Regions from separate parts of the Homo sapiens genome. Here region 2 is linked to region 1. The links come from fine-mapping of genetic effects on gene expression. Tissue or cell type: whole blood. Region 1 holds a variant in brackets; the other region holds the start of a gene. All regions are shown on one strand. Distances are between the middles of the regions.

Region 1 (8,170 bases):
TTTTAGTAGAGGTTTACAAACAGGTTTCTGCCATGTTGGCCAGACTGGTCTTGAACTCCTGACCTCAGGTGATCCACCCACCTCGGCCTCCCAAAGTGCTGGGATTACAGGTGTGAGCCACCACACCCGGCCTAACTTTAAACTTTTACTTTAGGTTTGGGGATATGTGAGGTTTGTTACATAGGTAAACACCTGTCACCAGGTTTGTTGTACATATTATCTCATCATCCAGGCATTAAGCCCAGTATTATTTTCTTCTTCGTGTTCATAAGCTCTCATCATTTAGCTCCCACATGTAAGTGAGAACATGTGGTATTTGGTTTTCTGTTCCTGTGTTAGTTTGCTAAGGATGATCGCCTCCAGCTCCATCCATGTTCCCACAAAAGACATGCTCTCATTTTTTTATAGCTGCATAGTATTCCATGGTGTATATGTACCACAGCTTTTTTTTTTTTTTTTTTTTTTTTTGAGACTGAGTCTCGCTCTGTCGCCCAGGCTGGGGTGCAATGGCGCAATCTCGGCTCACTGCAACCTCCACCTCCTGGACTCAAGCGATTCTCCTGCCTCAGCCTCTCAAGTAGCTGGGATTACAGGCACACACCATCACGCCCAGCTAATTTTTGTATTTTTAGTAGAGATGGGGTTTCACCATGTTGGCCAGGCTGGTCTTGTACTTCTGACCCCAGGTGTTCCACCCGCCTCAGCCGCCCAAAGTGCTGGGATTACAGGCGTAAGCCACTGTGCCCGGCTGTACCACATTTTCTTTATCCAATCTGTCACTGATGGGCATTTAGGTTTTTGTTTGTTTGTTTGAGATGGAGTCTCACTCTGTAGCCCAGACTAGACTGCAGTGGTGGCATGATCTTGGCTCACTGCAACCTCCACCTCCCGGATTCAAGTGATTCTCCTGTCTCAGCCTCCCAACTACCTGGGATTACAGGCAACTGCCAGTACACCCAGCTAATTGTATTTTTAGTAGAGATGGGATTTCACCATGTTGGCCAGGCTGGTCTCGAACTCCTGACCTCAGGTGATCTGCCTGCCTCGTCCTCCAAAAGTGCTGGGATTACAGGCCTGAGCCACCGGGCTGGCCAGCATTTAGGTTGATTCCATGTCTTTGCTCTTGTGAATAGTGCTGCACTCTCTACATCCACGTTTTCCCTCATGGTAATCTCATCCAGTTTTATGAGTTTTGCCATGGTTTGAATGCTTGTGTCCCTCCAAAATTCAGGGTCTCACTCTGTCACCCAGGCTGGAGGGCAGTGGCCCCATCACAGCTCACTGCATCCTCAACATCCCCAGGCTCAGGTGATCCTTCCACCCCAGCCTCCCAAGTAGCTGTGACTACAGGCATGGGCCACTATGCCTGGCTAATTTTTGTTTTTTGTAGAGACAGCATCTTGCCATGTTGCCCAGCCTGGTCTCAAACTCCTGGGCTCAAGCGATCCACCAACCTCAGCCTCCCAAAGTGCAGGGATTACAGGTGTGAGCCACTGCACCTGTCTCTAAGAGAGCTTTAAATATAATAAATGTGCTAATGATGCCAAACTTTTTTTTTGTTTTTTTGAGACAGAGTCTCACTCTATTGCCCAGGCTGGAGCGCAACGGCATGATCTTGGCTCACTGCAACCTCTGCCTCCCAGGTTCAAGTCATTCTCCTGCCTCAGCCTCCCGAGTAGCTGGGAATACAGGTGCGCACCACCACATCCGGCTAATTTTTGTATTTTTAGTAGAGACAGGGTTTCACCATGTTGGCCAAGCTGGTCTTGAACTCCTGACCTCGTGATCTGCCCGCCTCGGTCTCCCAAAATGCTGGGAGTACAGGCGTGAGCCACCGCGCTCAGCCATGATGCCAAACTTATATTCCCAGGCTGGACATCTCTGTGAACTCTATACTCACATATTCTACTTATACATTCAACTGCCTTGTAACCTTAACATGTAGCATAAGTAACACATTTTTATTTGGCTAAGCCGCTGAGAACTTGGGGTTGTTACTGCAGCATACCCAGGCCCATCCTGACATACACACCCCTCCACCACAGGTCCAAACATCACCACTTACCAGGAGAGGTCGAGTGTCCCTTATCCAAAATGCTCGGGACTAGAAGTGTTTCAGATTTTGGATTTTGGACTCTTTGTATTATACTTGCCTGATGGCGCTTTCCATATCCAAAATCCAAAATGCTCCAATGAGCACTTCCTTTGAGTGTCATGTCAGTGCTTACAAGGTTCAGATTTTGCAGCATCTCAGATTTCAGATCTGAATGCTCATCCTGTACTTGCCGCCCCTCCCGCCGCCCCATGTGCTGCTGCTTCTCAGTGGCCAGTTCATTGGCCACCTCTCCATTTTCTTTCGAGACGAAGTCTTGCTCTGTCGCCCAGGCTGTAGTGCAGTGGCGTGATCTAGGCTCACTGCAAGCTCCACCTCCCAGGTTCAGGCCATCCATTTTCTTTCATGACAGAGTCTTGCCCTGTTGCCCAGGTTGGAGTGCAGTGGAGTGATCTCAGCTCACTGCAACCTCTGCCTCCTGGGTTCAAGCGATTCTCCTGCCTCAGCCTCCCGAGTAGCTGGGATTACAGGCATGTGCCACCACACCTGGCTAATTTTTGTATTTTTAGTAGAGACAGGGTTTTGCCCTGTTGGCCAGGTTGGTGTTGAACTCCTGGCCTCAAGTGATCCACCCACCCCGGCCTCCCAAAGTGAGCCACCACACCCAGCCCCACCTCTCTATTTTCAAACATGCCAGACATGTCGCAGCTTAGGGCCTTTGCACAGGCCGTTCCTTCTGCCAAGAATGTTCTGCCCTGTATAGCCACACGGCTCACTCTGTCTCCTTCCACTGCAAGTTCCAATGCTGTTTTCTCAGAGGACGGCTCTGCCCACCCCTGCAGCAGGGCCTCTGACTGCCTTATGGTGATGGACTTGTTCTCCCCATTGCACTTCTCACTGGCCAACGCGGTGTATGGTTCCTCATTACGTGTATGTTCTGCCCCCCTCACTCGAGTATGAGCAGGGGCTTTCATTGATTTTGTTCATTGGTGTGGAGCAGTTTCAGCAGTGGGAGGGGTGAAAGCCCAGCTGGAGTGGGCTGTCAGGAGACTTGGGCGGTAGGCAGAATGCCCCCCAAAGGTGTCACGCCCTTATGCCTGCGCCTGTAATATTATGTTACATAACAAAAGGGACTTTGCAGATGTAAGTAGGTTACCAATTAGTGACCTTAAAATAGGGAGATTATCCTGTTTATCTGGGTGGACCCAATCTAATCACAGGAACACTTAAAGGCATAAA[G/A]CTTTCTCCAGCTGAAGGTGGGAGAAATGGGACAGAAAGGATCAAAGACGTGAAGTAGTAGAAAGGCTGGCTTTGGCCGGGCACAATGGCTCACACCTGTAATCCCAGCATTTTGGGAGGCTGAGGCGGGCGGATCACTTGAAGCCGGGAGTTCAAGACTAGCCTGGCTGGCATGGTGAAACCATGTCTACTAAAAATTTAAAAATTAGCTGGGCATGGTGGAGGGCACCTGTAGTCCCAGCTACTCGGGAAGCTGAGGCAGGAGAATCACTTGAACCCGGGAGGCGGAGGTGGCAGCGACCCGAGATTGTACCACTGCACTCCGGCCTGGATGACGAAGCCAGACTCTGTCTAAAAAGAAAAGAAAGTCTTGCTGGTTTTGAAGATGTGAGCGACCTCTAGAAGCTGAGAACAACCCCGGGCCGGCAGCCAGCAAGCGGAGACCTCATACAACCATGTGATGAATGTCAACAACCTGAAGGAGCCTGTAGCCCGGGTCTCCCCTAGGGCCCCTGCTAAGAGCTGAGGCAGCTGACACCCTGATTTCAGCCCTGAGACCTGCAGCAGAGAAGCCAGTCAAACCCACCTGCACTTCTAATGCACAGAACCGTGAGATAATGGGTGCTCTTTTGTGGTTGGTTGTTATAAAGTGATAGAAAACGAATTAACTAGGAGATAAGAGGAGACGCCAAGTACAGACAACCTGTTAAAAACTCTTGCTGGGATGGGAAGTAGGAAAATGAGGCAGTGGCTGGAAAGGGATGGGGGAGTCAAGGGCTTCTTTTTAAGGTGCCTGCCCCTGGGAGAGGGAAGCTGCAGTGAGAGGAAGCACCGCCCCAGCGTTACATAATTCCACCCTCGCAGGACACAGAGGCAGGGGTGCCACATTCATACTTGGGTAGAATGTGTAGATAAAGCAGCCGGCTTGTGGTGGACCAGGTATGAGTTCCCAAGCCAGCTGGGCACTGCCCGCAGCACTGCGCTGTGTCAACACCTGCAGGTCTTTCTCGGCTTTGGAGCCAAGAAGTCACCTTGCCAGGAACAGCCTCCAACCAATGACTGCAAGGTGAGAGGTGAATGCTGGGTCCCCTTGCAGCAGGGTGAAGGGTGAATGCCTTGGCTCCCCTGGCCCTCGGGGAGGGACTCTGAGGATGGTTCCTACACAAGCGCCTGCTACAGTAACTGGACTGGTAGCACCCCCTTCCCTGCCTCACACCCCTACTCTCCTGCTGGTGTCTCCTGGGGTCTTCTCTCAAGCTAACAATTTGGACTTTTTTTTTTTTTTGACGGAGTTTCACTCTGTTGCCCAGACTGGAGTGTGGTGGCACAATCTTGGCTCACTGCAACCTCTGCCTCCTGGGTTCACGCGATGTTCCTGCCTCAGCCTCCCAAGTAGCTGGGAATACAAGTGTGTGCCACCACATCCGCTAATTTTTGTATTTTTAGTAGAAACGGGATTTCACCCTGTTGGCCAAGCTGGTCTTGAACTCCTGACCTCAGGTGATCCACTTGCCTCGGCCTCCCAAAGTGCTGGGATTACAGGTATGAGCCACCAGGCCCGGACAAAATTTGGACTCGAATCCATTTCAAGTCAACCTCTGGGGGAACCTGGACTATGACACCAGTGCTTTTCAACTACCCTAGGGAGCACCCACCAAGCTCCACTTCTTTTCACAAAGCAGTTGCTCATAATCTCATCACACCCTTGCAACTCCATGAGGTTGAGATTGGTAGGGCAGGTACTTTTTTTTTTTTTTTTGAGACGGAGTCTCGCTCTGTCGCCCAACCTGGAGTGCAGTGGCACGATCTCGGCTCACTGCAAGCTCTGCCTCCCGGGTTCAAGCCATTCTCTTGCCTCAGCCTCCCAAGTAGCTGGGACTACAGGCACCCGCCACCACGCCCGGCTTTTTTTTTTGTATTTTTAGTAGAGGTGGGGTTTCACCGTGTTAGCCAGGATGGTCTCCAGCTCCTGACCTCGTGATCTGCCCGCCTCGGCCTCCCAAAGTGCTAGGATTACAGGCATGAGCCACCGCGCGCGGTCGGACAGGCATGTTTTGAGCAAGGCCCAGCCTGAACCCCAATGTGTGTCTCAGGCAGGCCAGGACTCATCAGCCCCTTCAGTCCTCTAGGGTGTCTGGGGTACTGGCAAGTACCAGGGGACCCAGAGATGGAACGTCTGGGCTCACTCATGTACACCCTTTGCAGGCTGGGGCACGGTGGCTCATGCCTGTAATCCCAGCACTTTGGGAGGCCGAGGTGGGCCGATCACCTCAGGTTGGGAGTTCGAGACCATCCTGGCCAATATGGAAAAACCTCACTTCTACTAAAAATACAAAAATTAGCCGGACATGGTGGCGCGTGCCTGTAGTCCCAGCTACTCGGGAGGCTGAGGCAGGAGAGTCGCTTGAACCCGAGAGGCAGAGGCTGCAGTGAGCCGAGATCGTGCCACTGCACTCTAGCCTGGGTGACAGAGCAAAACTCTGACTCAAAAAAAAAAAAAAAAAAAGCAAGAAAAGAAAACGGAACCCAGCAAGCCAGAAAGGAGCCTGTGCAGCTCCTCAGGTGCAGGAGTCGCCCTTGAGGCAGGGTGAGGCCTCCTCACGGGCGACTGGACACCGGCGGAGCAGGACGCAGGACCTAGCCCCGTTCGCTCCAGGCTGCAGGGGAGCCACGCTGCCCACCACGGCGTACCCAGTCCCTCCCTGAGCGGGTCTCGGCTTTCCCGCGGAGCCTAATGGGCCTCACTGGAGTTCCGTTTCCAGACGCCTTGGACCAGGCTGCTCTGGAGGTCAGCCGCCCCCGAGGCTGAAGAGCCGGCGGCTCGGAGAAGGCTGCGCGGGAGGCCGCGCCCTCCGGGTCGCGTGGGCCGGGCGTCCGCTGTCTCTCCAGAAACACCCGCGTCCCGCGGCAACGGCCTCTTCCTAGCCCGCCTCGCCCGCTCCCCGCCCGCCCAGAGGGCCCCGCACGAGCTCCGTCCACCTCCTCCTTCCGCGCTCGGGGCCAGGACGGCGGCGGGAAACAGCTTACGGAGGCTACCGCAAGGGAGGCGAAAAGCAGCCAGCTCGCAGAGCTCCACGGACCCGGCGCGAGTCCCCAGCCACACTCCGCACTGCCCCTCTAGGCGCGGCGCCGCTGCCCGCACAAAGCTTCCCGCGAAACTGACGTCGGCGCGCGCAGGCACCGCCCCCGGCCTCGCCCCTCCCCCGCGCTCGCCCCGCTCCCCAGAGCGCCGGCGCACTCGCCCTCCTCCTATTGGTTGTTGCGGGGCGGCGCGCGCCGGTCGGCGCCGTGCGCGCCTAGCCATTGGCCGAGCGGCGGCGGGCCGGGGGGTGTGTCCGGGGCTGCGCCCCGCCCCTCCGCTCCGCTCGCTGTGGTGCGCGCGGTGGCGGTGGCGGCGGCGGCGGCGGCGCGTGGCAGGTCCGGCGGGCGCGAGGCGGCGGCGGAGGCCCGAGCCCGGCCCAGCCTCGTCCCGCCCGGAGCCCGCCTGGCTGCTACCCCGACCCCGGCTCCGGTCCCGTCCTGTCCCGGCGCGCCGCGGCCTCGCCCCGGCCCCCGCTCGGCGCCTCCCGAGGGAGCGGCGCTGCCGGCCGAGAGCGCAGGCCCGGCCATGACCGACTTCAAATTGGGTATCGTGCGGCTCGGCCGGGTGGCCGGGAAGGTGAGCGGCGCGGAGCCCGCGACCCGGCCCGTCTCGCCCGTCCAGGCCTCCGCGCGGGGCCGGGGGCGGTTGTGCGGGCGGCGGCCGGGGCGGGGGCGCGGAGCCCGGGATGGGCCCCAGCGGGGCGGGGGACGCTGCGCGGGCCCGGCTGCTGGCCCCGCGCGGGTGCAGCTTCCTCTCGCAGGCCGGCGGGCACGCACCCCTCGGCTCTGGGGTGCACCTGGCCACCCTCGGCCCTGCCCTGCCGGAGGTGGAGGCCACGGCCCTGTCCCGAGCCGGGTGCGGAGATGCGTGGCTCGAGCCCGAGCCGCGTTCTCCCGGAGCCCTCCCAGTGGTGTCGGCGATCCGGGGCCTAGCGCGGCGTCCGGGCTGCCAGTGCGGCCACACGGTTTAAACACAGCGCCCTTTCCGAGGCAGCGCCACTTCCACACCTCTCGCCGAGGCGGGTCTGGTGTGGGCTCTTCTGTGCCTCCCAGTTCTCAGCAGGGCTTCAGGCTCGTTTTAACGCTGCCAGGGGTTGGCCACGTTAGGCTGAGCCTCAGACTCGGAGCAGAGAGGAAGAAGCCTGGGCCCTGATGCTGCAGACTCAGGGCCTTCCTCGACTTCTCTTCTTACTTGGCCCCCACGCTCCACGTTTGAGGCTGGGGATTCCATGGCACCTGTGGGCATTGAGGCTTGGCGGTTTCTCGGAGCCACCTGTGCAGCTGCACCAGCCAGGGTCCTTACCCGGATGGGAGCCCTGTTCCCGTCACCAGCGGCTGCGGCTTTTGGTGGGAGAGAGGAGCCGAGGCAGTGTCAGGCGGCGTCAGGTAAAACAGGTTCAGATCCCAGAAGAAAAACTGCCAAGAGGGAGACTGGCCCGTTCTGGGACCTGTTCCTGTTTCCTGCCCCTGCTGCAAGAGCATAGGCAGGGCCTGCTGGGGAGGAGGCTTTTTTCCACCAGGGAAGGGTGGGCTCTCCAGTCAGGTCGGAGACCAGAGACCCCTTCTAACTCCACCCATGATGGCATTGTCATCCCTTACAGCTTTTCTTTGGAACATTTCAGATGGACAAAAAGCTAAAAAGGGTAATCAGTGAGTAGCTCAGCTTAATAAACACACCCTAATCAAAACCTTCTGGCTCTTCTGCCTCAGCCCCGGCCCCTCCCTCAGCTCAGTGAAACAGTCTTTGCCTAGGTTTATTGGTGCGTTGAATGTTCAGTGCCACTGTTGGGGTTAGCC
Region 2 (8,170 bases), 42 kb after region 1:
GGAGACTGCGAGTGAGTGCCCGGGACCACCTCATCAGAGATGCTTACTGCAGCCCTGCAGGTGCCTGTGCACTGATGGAATCCACAGTGTAGTCAGAAAAGCTGTTGACTTCTCTTAAATCAGCTTCCCTGCTGGGCCCCTGAAAGTGGACTGGGTGATTCTGTCTGGCAGAGAGTGGGGAAAAGACGCGGTTTCCAGCTTGCAGATTTGTTAAGTTTCTCAGGCAGATTTTGACTTTCAGCCTTTCATACTTGTTTAAGCAACTATTTGTATTAAATGAAGTTTTTTGAAAAACACGAGTTTATAACATGTTTAAAATGAACATTTTATGCCTCATCATGGCACCAGAAATGCTTGTATAGATTGAGCACAGCCAGTCCAAAAATCCAAAATCCCAAAACTTTTGGAAAATCCCGCAGCTGAACTCATGTGACGGGTTGCATATATTATTAAAACTACTGAGCACAGTCACAGTGGCCTGTAATCCCAGCACTTTGGAAGGGGCTGAGGCAGGAGGATTGCTTGAGGCCTGGAGTTCAAGACCAGCCTGGGCAACATAGCAAAACCCAGTCTCTATAAAAAGTAAAACAAAAATTAGCCAGGTGTGGTGCATGTGCCTATGGTCCCAGCCACTTGGGAGGCTGAGGCAGGAGGATTGTTGAGCCCAGGAGGTCGAGGCTGCAATGAGCCAGGGGCAACAGAGCAAGACTCTTATCTCTAAAAATTAAATAATAAAAAATTGTATAAACAATAATTGAGGACAACCAGTTACAGATTCATTCCTTCTCTCACAGCTTCATTTGACTAGCCTAAAAAACATATATATTGTATAAAACTACCCTCAGGCTATGTGTATAAGGTGTACATGAAACAAAATTGAATTTCATGTTTAGACTTGTATCTCATCTCATCCCCAAGATGTCTCATTATGTACATGCAGATATTCCAAAATCTGAAATCCAAAACATTTCTGGTTCCAAGCTTTTTTTTTTTTTGCCCCCCGAGATGGAGTTTTGCTCTTGCTGCCCAGGCTGGGGTGCAATGGCACAATCTTGACTCACTGCAACCTCCGCCTCCCAAGTTCAAGCGATTCTCCTGCCTCACCCTCCCAATAGCTGGCATCCACCAGCATGCCCGGCTAATTTTGTATATTTAGTAGAGACAAGGTTTCTCCATGTTGGTCAGGCTGCTCTCAAACTCTGGACCTCAGGTGATCCGTCCACCTTGGCCGCCCAAAGTGCCGGGATTACAGGCGTTGAGCTGTGCCTTTTTTTTTTTTTGAGACAGAGTCATGCTCGTCACCCAGGCTGGAGTGCAGTGGCTCAATCTCGGTGGCTCCATCTCGACTCACTGCCCTCCACCTCCCAGGTTCAAGTGATTCTCCTGCCTCAGCCTCCGGAGTAGCTGGGATTACAGGTGTGTGCCACCATGCCTGGCTAATTTTTGTATTTTTAGTACAAATGGGGTTTCACCATGTTGGCCAGGCTCCTGACCTCAGATGACCCGCCTGTCTCGGCTTCCCAAAGTGCTGGGATTACAGGCATGAGCCAGGGCGCCCAGCCCCAAGCATTTTGGATAACGACGCTCAACCTGTATTGGATCCCTATGCAGGTAAGTAAAAGGGAGTGTGTGTTCCAAGTTGCCTTGGGGGTCATCAGCTTGAAATATGTGAAGTCTGTAGGGAACACTCATCACTGCAGCACCCACACGGGTTAGCTCCCAAATACTGGACAGATGGTGACTTTAGGTGTGTGAACAAACTGGGTGTGTTACATCCAACTCCTGCTGTGAGGGCTTTTGTCTCTCTGGGAGGAACTGTGGTTGAGGTACAGGCCACTATTTGTCAAATCCTCAGCATTTACTAATGATACATAGGTGACTACAAGCAAAAAAACATGCAGTTTTATCCCTTTTTTGAGACGGAGTCTCACTCTGTTACCCAGGCTGGAGTGCAGTGGTGCGATCTCGACTCACTGCAAGCTCTGCCTCCTGGGTTTAAGCGATTCTCTTGCCTTTGGAGTAGCTGGGACTACAGTCGCACGCCACCACGCCTGGCTAATTTTTGTATTTTTAGTAGAGATGGGGTTTCATCATGCTGGCCAGGCTGGTCTTGAACTCCTAATCTTGTGATCCTCCCGCCTCAGCCTCCCAATGTGCTGGGATTACAGGCGTGAGCCACCGCACCTGGCCTTATCCCTTTCTTCTTTTCTGATGATACAACACAACATGTCACTATATGTCAGATTGCAACAGGAAATTTTCCTAGGCTGGGCGCAGTGGCTCACACCTGTAATCCCAGCATTTTGGGAGGCTGAGGCGGGCGGATCATTTCAGCCCATGAGTTCTCAGCCTGGGCAGCATAGTGAGACCCCCATCTCTGTATCTTTGTTCCCTGGGTGAATAATTTGGGGGATGAACTGACCAGTGCTGTCATCCGGCACAATCTGCCTTGTAAATTCTTTCTCCTGCAAGCTGAGTGATGTTTGCCCTTGGCAGGTTCCCAGAACCTTCGGACTCGGAAGATGACCTCCAAAGAGGTTCACAGCGCCGAGTCTGCATGAGAACTCGGCTTAGGTGCCTGCACTGAAATCTGTCATGCTGCACACTTTGCCATGACCTGAGGCCAAAAAACAAACACCGTATAGCTGGCAAAGGCGTTTAATAGAAATGAGATGAGGGCAGGCCGCCCCTCCCCCGCCCAGCTAGCGCAGGAAGTTCCTGGGGTAGAGCTGGAAGAGCTTTCCCTCCTGTGTGGGCTCGAAGCCGTACTTTTCCAGGTTGTCAGGGTCGAAGGTACCGTCCTTGAAGTCCTTTTCGATGGCAGGCGCCACGGCTTCGCTGAAGAGCTGCGCGGCCGTCAGGGGCGTCTCCTCGCTCTCAGGGGCGAGGTAGCTCACGTAGGGCTTGAGCTTGAAGCCGGTCAGATCCGGGACGACGAACTCCGGGACCATCTCCTTGATCTGCACGAACCTCCAGCCCGAGGTGAGGAAGCCGATGCCCTTGGCGCCCCGGCCCTTGCGGCCCCTGAAGCTGCGCGGGCCCCGCTTGCTCGTCCACTTGCTCATTCGGTCCGCACCCCGGACCAGGCAGCGCGCCGCTGCGGCCAGGACGCCCATGCCGCGCCCTGCGGGAGGAGAGAGCGGGTAGTCGCGGCCCCGGGAACCCGGCCAGCCCCGCCCCTGGCCGCGCGCGGCGCCCGCCCCAATCCGACAGACTCACCTGGACCGGAGACCCCACACGAGCTCCAAGCGGCCCCGGCTCCGGCGCCAACCCGGCCTCGACCTTGCTCCGCTTCCGACCGCTGCGTCGCAGCAAGAGCGGCTCCGATTGGCCGCGGCCGCCGCGTCCAATAGCGGCCCCAATCTGGTAGGGGGTGTGGCCGCGGGGACTCGGCCAATGCGAGGAGCGCGCGGGGCGGGGCGGGGCTCGCGGGGCTGGCGGTGCGGGGCCGGCGGTGCGGGGCTCGCGGGGCGGGGCTCGCGGGGCGGGGCTCGCGGGGCGGGGCTCGCGGGGCGGGGCTCGCGGGGCGGGGCTCGCGGGGCGGGGCTGGCGGATGAGTGATCGCTCTCAGCGCGGTGGTCCCTGGCGTCTCCACTGCCCGCCACTGCCTGTGTTCGTCCGCCAGGTGGCCGGCGGTTTCCCGGGAGCCCAGTCCCCCTGAGGCCGTGAGGTGGCGTCGGGAGGTCGGGGAGGACGCGGGCCCTGGACTCGAGACGGCCGCCGCGTTGACGCCGCGACCCTGCCTTTCTTACCCCTCCGCCGGGCGCGGCTCCTCTGGGCGGAGCCGGCAACCGCGCGGGGAAAGCCCGGGACCTGCAGCCGGGAGGGCCCGGGCTGTCTGTGCTCCCCCGCAGGCCGGGCAGTGGTGTGGGGGGACTCGAGCCCTCGCGGTGCCCAAATTAATCAATAATCTTGGACCCAGCACGTCCGGCTTGCGCACTGAGCCCTCCTGCCCGGTCACCCTCGCAGGCGACCTCTCACCCCACGCGGAAGTCGCCCCCCAGCCGCACCCTCACAATCCGGATCCACCCCCTCCCCAGCTGCACCCCGTCCCCAGCGGCACCCCCACAGCCCAGATCCATCCCCTCTCCAGCTGCACGCCCTTCCCCAGCGGTACCCCCACACCCCAGATCCATCCCCTCCCCAGCTGCACCCCCTCCCCAGCGGCACCCCCACGCCCCAGATCCACCCCCTCCCCAGCTGCACCCCCTCCCCAGCGGCACCCCCACGCCCCAGATCCACCCCCTCCCCAGCTGCACCCCCTCCCCAGCGGCACCCCCACACCCCAGATCCACCCCCTCCCCAGCTGCACCCCCTCCCTAGCGGTACCCCCACTCGCCGGATCCACGCGCTCCCCAGCTGCACCCTCTCCCCAGCAGTACCCCCACACCCCAGATCCACCCCCTCCCCAGCTGCACCCACTCCCCAGCGGTACCCCTACACGCCGGATCCACCCCCTCCCCAGCTGCACCCACTCCCCAGCGGCACCCCCACACCCCAGATCCACCCCCTCCCCAGCTGCACCCACTCCCCAGCGGTACCCCTACACGCCGGATCCACCCCCTCCCCAGCTGCACCCTCCTCCCCAGCTGCATCCCCACACCCCGGATCCACGCCCCGCCAGCGTCACCTCCCCTCCAGCCGTGCTTCTCCAGAAGGCAGCGCTGCCCCCATCCCCGCCGCGCTGGGCCTGGCTCCTCTTGACCTGCTTGGATACGCCCCATCTGGCTGCTGTTCTGGGTTCCGGGACAGCCACGTGAGGGCTGTTTACAGAGGGAAGGAGGTGGCTCCTAGCAGATGACAGACACTTCTCAAAAGACAGCTTTTCTTCCTGGAGAACAGACTTTTTCAGCAGGATTTTCCTTTCAGTGAAACATAATTTGACTTGAAAGGAACCCAGGGAAAAGTGTCCAGGTGTGAGCATGAGCGGGTAGAGGTGTGCCCTTGTTTGCTTCAGGCTGTCTGCTTTTCGCCCCTGACTGTTTTTTCTGTTTCTGGCCATGGAGGAAGAGAAAGATGACAGCCCACAGGTATGTAACTCGGGGGACCAGATGCCTGGATTTCCCAGTTGGGGGGCATTTCTGGACCCAGAGAAGGGTCCTCTTGGCGTCTGCTCTGCCGCGCTCTTTGGCCCCGTGGCTTCTTGGCGCCTGAGGACTGTGGGAGTGGTGGATCTGGCCCCTCTCTGCTGCCTGTCACAGCTGCCAGCACTTGTTAGACGCGCCTGTCACAGCAGACAGCCAGTGGTGGCCCATGGGCATTGTTCACAGCGAGGGCAGCCAGCGGTGGCCCATGGGCATTGCCTGAGGCCTTGTCTTTTCTTCCCCTAAGGTCACAGTTGCTACTTCCAGTTCCTTTAGGACTTTGCCTGATGGTTTTGCTTAGAACCTTTTTCTGTGTTTTTTTTTTTCCCAAGACGGAGTCTCGCTCTGTCGCCCAGGCTGGTGTGCAATGGTGTGATCTTGGCTCACAGCAACCTCCGCCTCCTGGGTTCAGGCAATTCTGCCTCAGCCTCCCGGGTAGCTGGGACTACAGGCACCACGCCCGGCTAATTTTTGTATTCTTAGTAGAAACGGGGTTTCGCCATGTTGGCCAGGCTGGTCTTGAACTTTTTTTTTTTTTTTTTTTGAGACGGAGTCTTGCTCTGTCGCCCAAGCTGGATTGCAGTGGCACGATCTCAACTCACTGCAAGCTCTGCCTCCCAGGTTCACGCCATTCTCCTGCCTCGGCCTCCCAAGTAGCTGGGACTACAGGCGCCCACCACCACGCCCGGCTAATATTTTTTTGTATTTTCAGTAGAGACGGTGTTTCACTGTGTTAGCCAGGATGGTCTCGATTTCCTGACCTCGTGATCCGCCCGCCTTGGCCTCCCAAAGTGCAGGGATTACAGGCATGAGCCACCGTGCCCGGCCTAGTCTTGAACTCTTGACCTCATGATCTGCCCGCCTCGGCCTCCCAAAGTGCTGGGATTACAGGCGTGAGACACTGTGCCCAGCCCTAGAATCTTTTTCTTAGTCAAACATCTGTAGCCACATGGCAAAGGCCTTATTTCCTAAACCAGAACACTGGACCCATTAAAGCAACAGTGAAAAGCTAGAAAAGGCTGAGCCGCTCCACCGCAGGAGAGCCTGTGACCAGGTCACGGGCCATCGCGTGATAGGCCTTCCTTGGATAATCGGTCCCAGAAGCGGTTGCTGGGCTGAGGGACTCACTTCGCTTCCTTAAGTGAGGGACATGGTCGTAGGTGCTTCTCTGCTCCCCACCTGGTTGAGAGTGAGCGTAGGGGTTCCCCTGTCCTGAAGCAGAAGCTCCCAGGGCTTGTATTTGCTTCTGAACCAAGTTCGAAGGGCTCAGCTTTCTGGGCACGTCCTCATTCTGTCTTGGTGCAGAATTGTGTCTTTAAATGCGTTTCTGAGTGCTCTTCTGACTTCCCTGAGTTTTCTTTTTTTTGAGATGGAGTCTCGCTCTGTCGCCCAGGCTGGAGTGCAGTAGCACAATCTCAGCTCACTGCAAGCTCTGCCTCCCGGGTTCACGCCATTCTCCTGCCTCAGCCTCCCAAGTAGCTGGGACTACAGGCACCCACCACCACGCCCGGCTAATTTTTGAATTTTTAGTAGAGACGGGGTTTCACCGTGTTAGCCAGGATGGTCTCGATCTCCTGACCTCATGATCCGCCCGCCTCAGCCTCCCAAAGTGCTGGGATTGCAGGCGTGAGCCACTGCGCCCGGCCCTTCCCTGGATTTTCTGGCACGGATGGGAGTCCTGCTCTCTGCAGTGAGGCGGGGGTGGGTGTTGTTTTAGGCCTTGGCTCTTGTGTAGAAACTTTCAGGCTGAACCAGTGGCTTCCCCTGCCCTATCCGGTTCCTGGCTGCCTGGGAGGAAGGTGTGATGCCAGCAGGAATGGAGAGGGCTGCCTGTCTGGCTGGTGTCGTCTTCTCGTCTTCTCGTTTTCTCTTTCACTTCTTGGAACCACCAGCGTCCTCTGCTGTCGTTCACTCACCATCCTGCCCTCACCCTCTCTTCCCTCCCTCCCGCGGACCTGGACTTCTGAAGTCCTGCTGCTCCAGGAGACTGCAGGACACAGAGCCTTCTCGGCCGCTGCCTCCTTGTTTGGCATGTGAACTGGTGTTGAATGTTCTCAGAATCCAGATGGCTCATAGGGGTTTTGAGCACTGCTCCTGCTGGGGCTGAGGCGACACTGAGAGGGGGGCCTTGGCCTCCCCTTTGGCCAGGCCTGCTCCCTGAGACCTGCATCCCAAGGATTGCATCACCAGCATGTGGGTGTGTTAGTGATGCCTGGGGCAGCCGCTGGCCCTGCCCCACTGTATCCCAGTGACTGAGGGAGCCAGGTTGCTCTCTGAGTGCTTCCTAGCAGGGGGCTCAGAGGACCCCGGCACCCCGGGCGAGATCACTTCTTCCCAGAAGTCTCCAGGGCTGCTGACTTCTCCCCTAACTCCCAGCTCTCCTCCTGCTGCTCTGAACAAGTTCGGGCTGGGAAGCCTGTCCATGCCCACCTGACCCCATGCTCTCTGCTGCAGGCTGACTTCTGCCTGGGCACCGCCCTGCACTCTTGGGGACTGTGGTTCACGGAGGAAGGTTCACCGTCCACCATGGTAATCACCTCACGCTTCCCTGGAGCCAGACCTGGATGGGCCGTGGCCTTTTTCACCTCTCCCTGTCCCCATCCCCTGGCTCATTCCTGCCCAGCCTGTGGTTGGGCAGCCAGGGGTGGGGGCAGGCTTAGGGCTAGGGTTAGGTTTGTGGCTTTGCTGATGGGCGCCGTGTTTCCACTCTCGGCCAGCTGACGGGGATTGCAGTTGGAGCCCTCCTGGCCCTGGCCTTGGTTGGTGTCCTCATCCTTTTCATGTTCAGAAGGCTTAGACAATTTCGTGAGTATCTTGGTTCCGACTCTGGCCCGGGGGGTTGGGGGAAAGCGTGGGTGTCTTGGGATGTGTTTTGAGCCCCTGGGAGGGGCCCTCAAGCGCATGGTGGCTTTGGCTAGAATCTGATGGCCCGTCTGGGCTCAGGCTGAGCCCGTCGGTTCCAGGAAGCCAAGTCTGTTCAGAGCCCTTTCTGTTCTCCTCTCCTGAGCAAGGCTTCAGTGGGAAGAGGGGAGAGCCCCCTTTGTTGGAGATGAGCCTGTCACTCAGGCCCTCTTCCCTCATGCTGT

What was found. PIP is the estimated chance that this variant, and not a neighbour inherited with it, causes the effect.
Region 2: MRPL41 starts here. The variant in region 1 is fine-mapped to the expression of MRPL41 in whole blood (TOPMed, PIP above 0.99).

Annotation. Positions count from the first base shown.
Region 1 is chr9:137,588,993-137,597,162 of GRCh38, reverse strand. ZMYND19 (zinc finger MYND-type containing 19) reads left to right here and starts at 6,651. Exons shown (of 6, transcript NM_138462.3): 1 at 6,651-6,950. The coding sequence starts at 6,900. LOC124902318 (a long non-coding RNA gene) reads left to right here. Exons shown (of 3, transcript XR_007061885.1): 2 at 4,293-4,358; 3 at 6,055-6,124. RefSeq lists silencers at 6,106-6,175, 6,366-6,755, 7,036-7,145, 7,196-7,245 and enhancers at 7,516-7,565, 8,088-8,170. The variant G/A (reference allele first, on the strand shown) is at 3,293.
Region 2 is chr9:137,547,028-137,555,197 of GRCh38, reverse strand. MRPL41 (mitochondrial ribosomal protein L41) reads right to left here and starts at 3,319. Exons shown (of 2, transcript NM_032477.3): 1 at 3,220-3,319; 2 at 2,643-3,124. The coding sequence starts at 3,116. The coding sequence ends at 2,703. It overlaps PNPLA7 (patatin like domain 7, lysophospholipase), which reads left to right and starts at 4,796. Exons shown (of 35, transcript NM_001098537.3): 1 at 4,796-5,030; 2 at 7,539-7,613; 3 at 7,802-7,889. The coding sequence starts at 5,001. It overlaps DPH7 (diphthamide biosynthesis 7), which reads left to right. Exons shown (of 9, transcript NM_138778.5): 9 at 1-754. It overlaps LOC124902317 (a long non-coding RNA gene), which reads left to right and starts at 1,518. Exons shown (of 2, transcript XR_007061883.1): 1 at 1,518-1,611; 2 at 2,497-2,671. RefSeq lists a silencer at 3,048-3,997 and an enhancer at 5,186-5,687.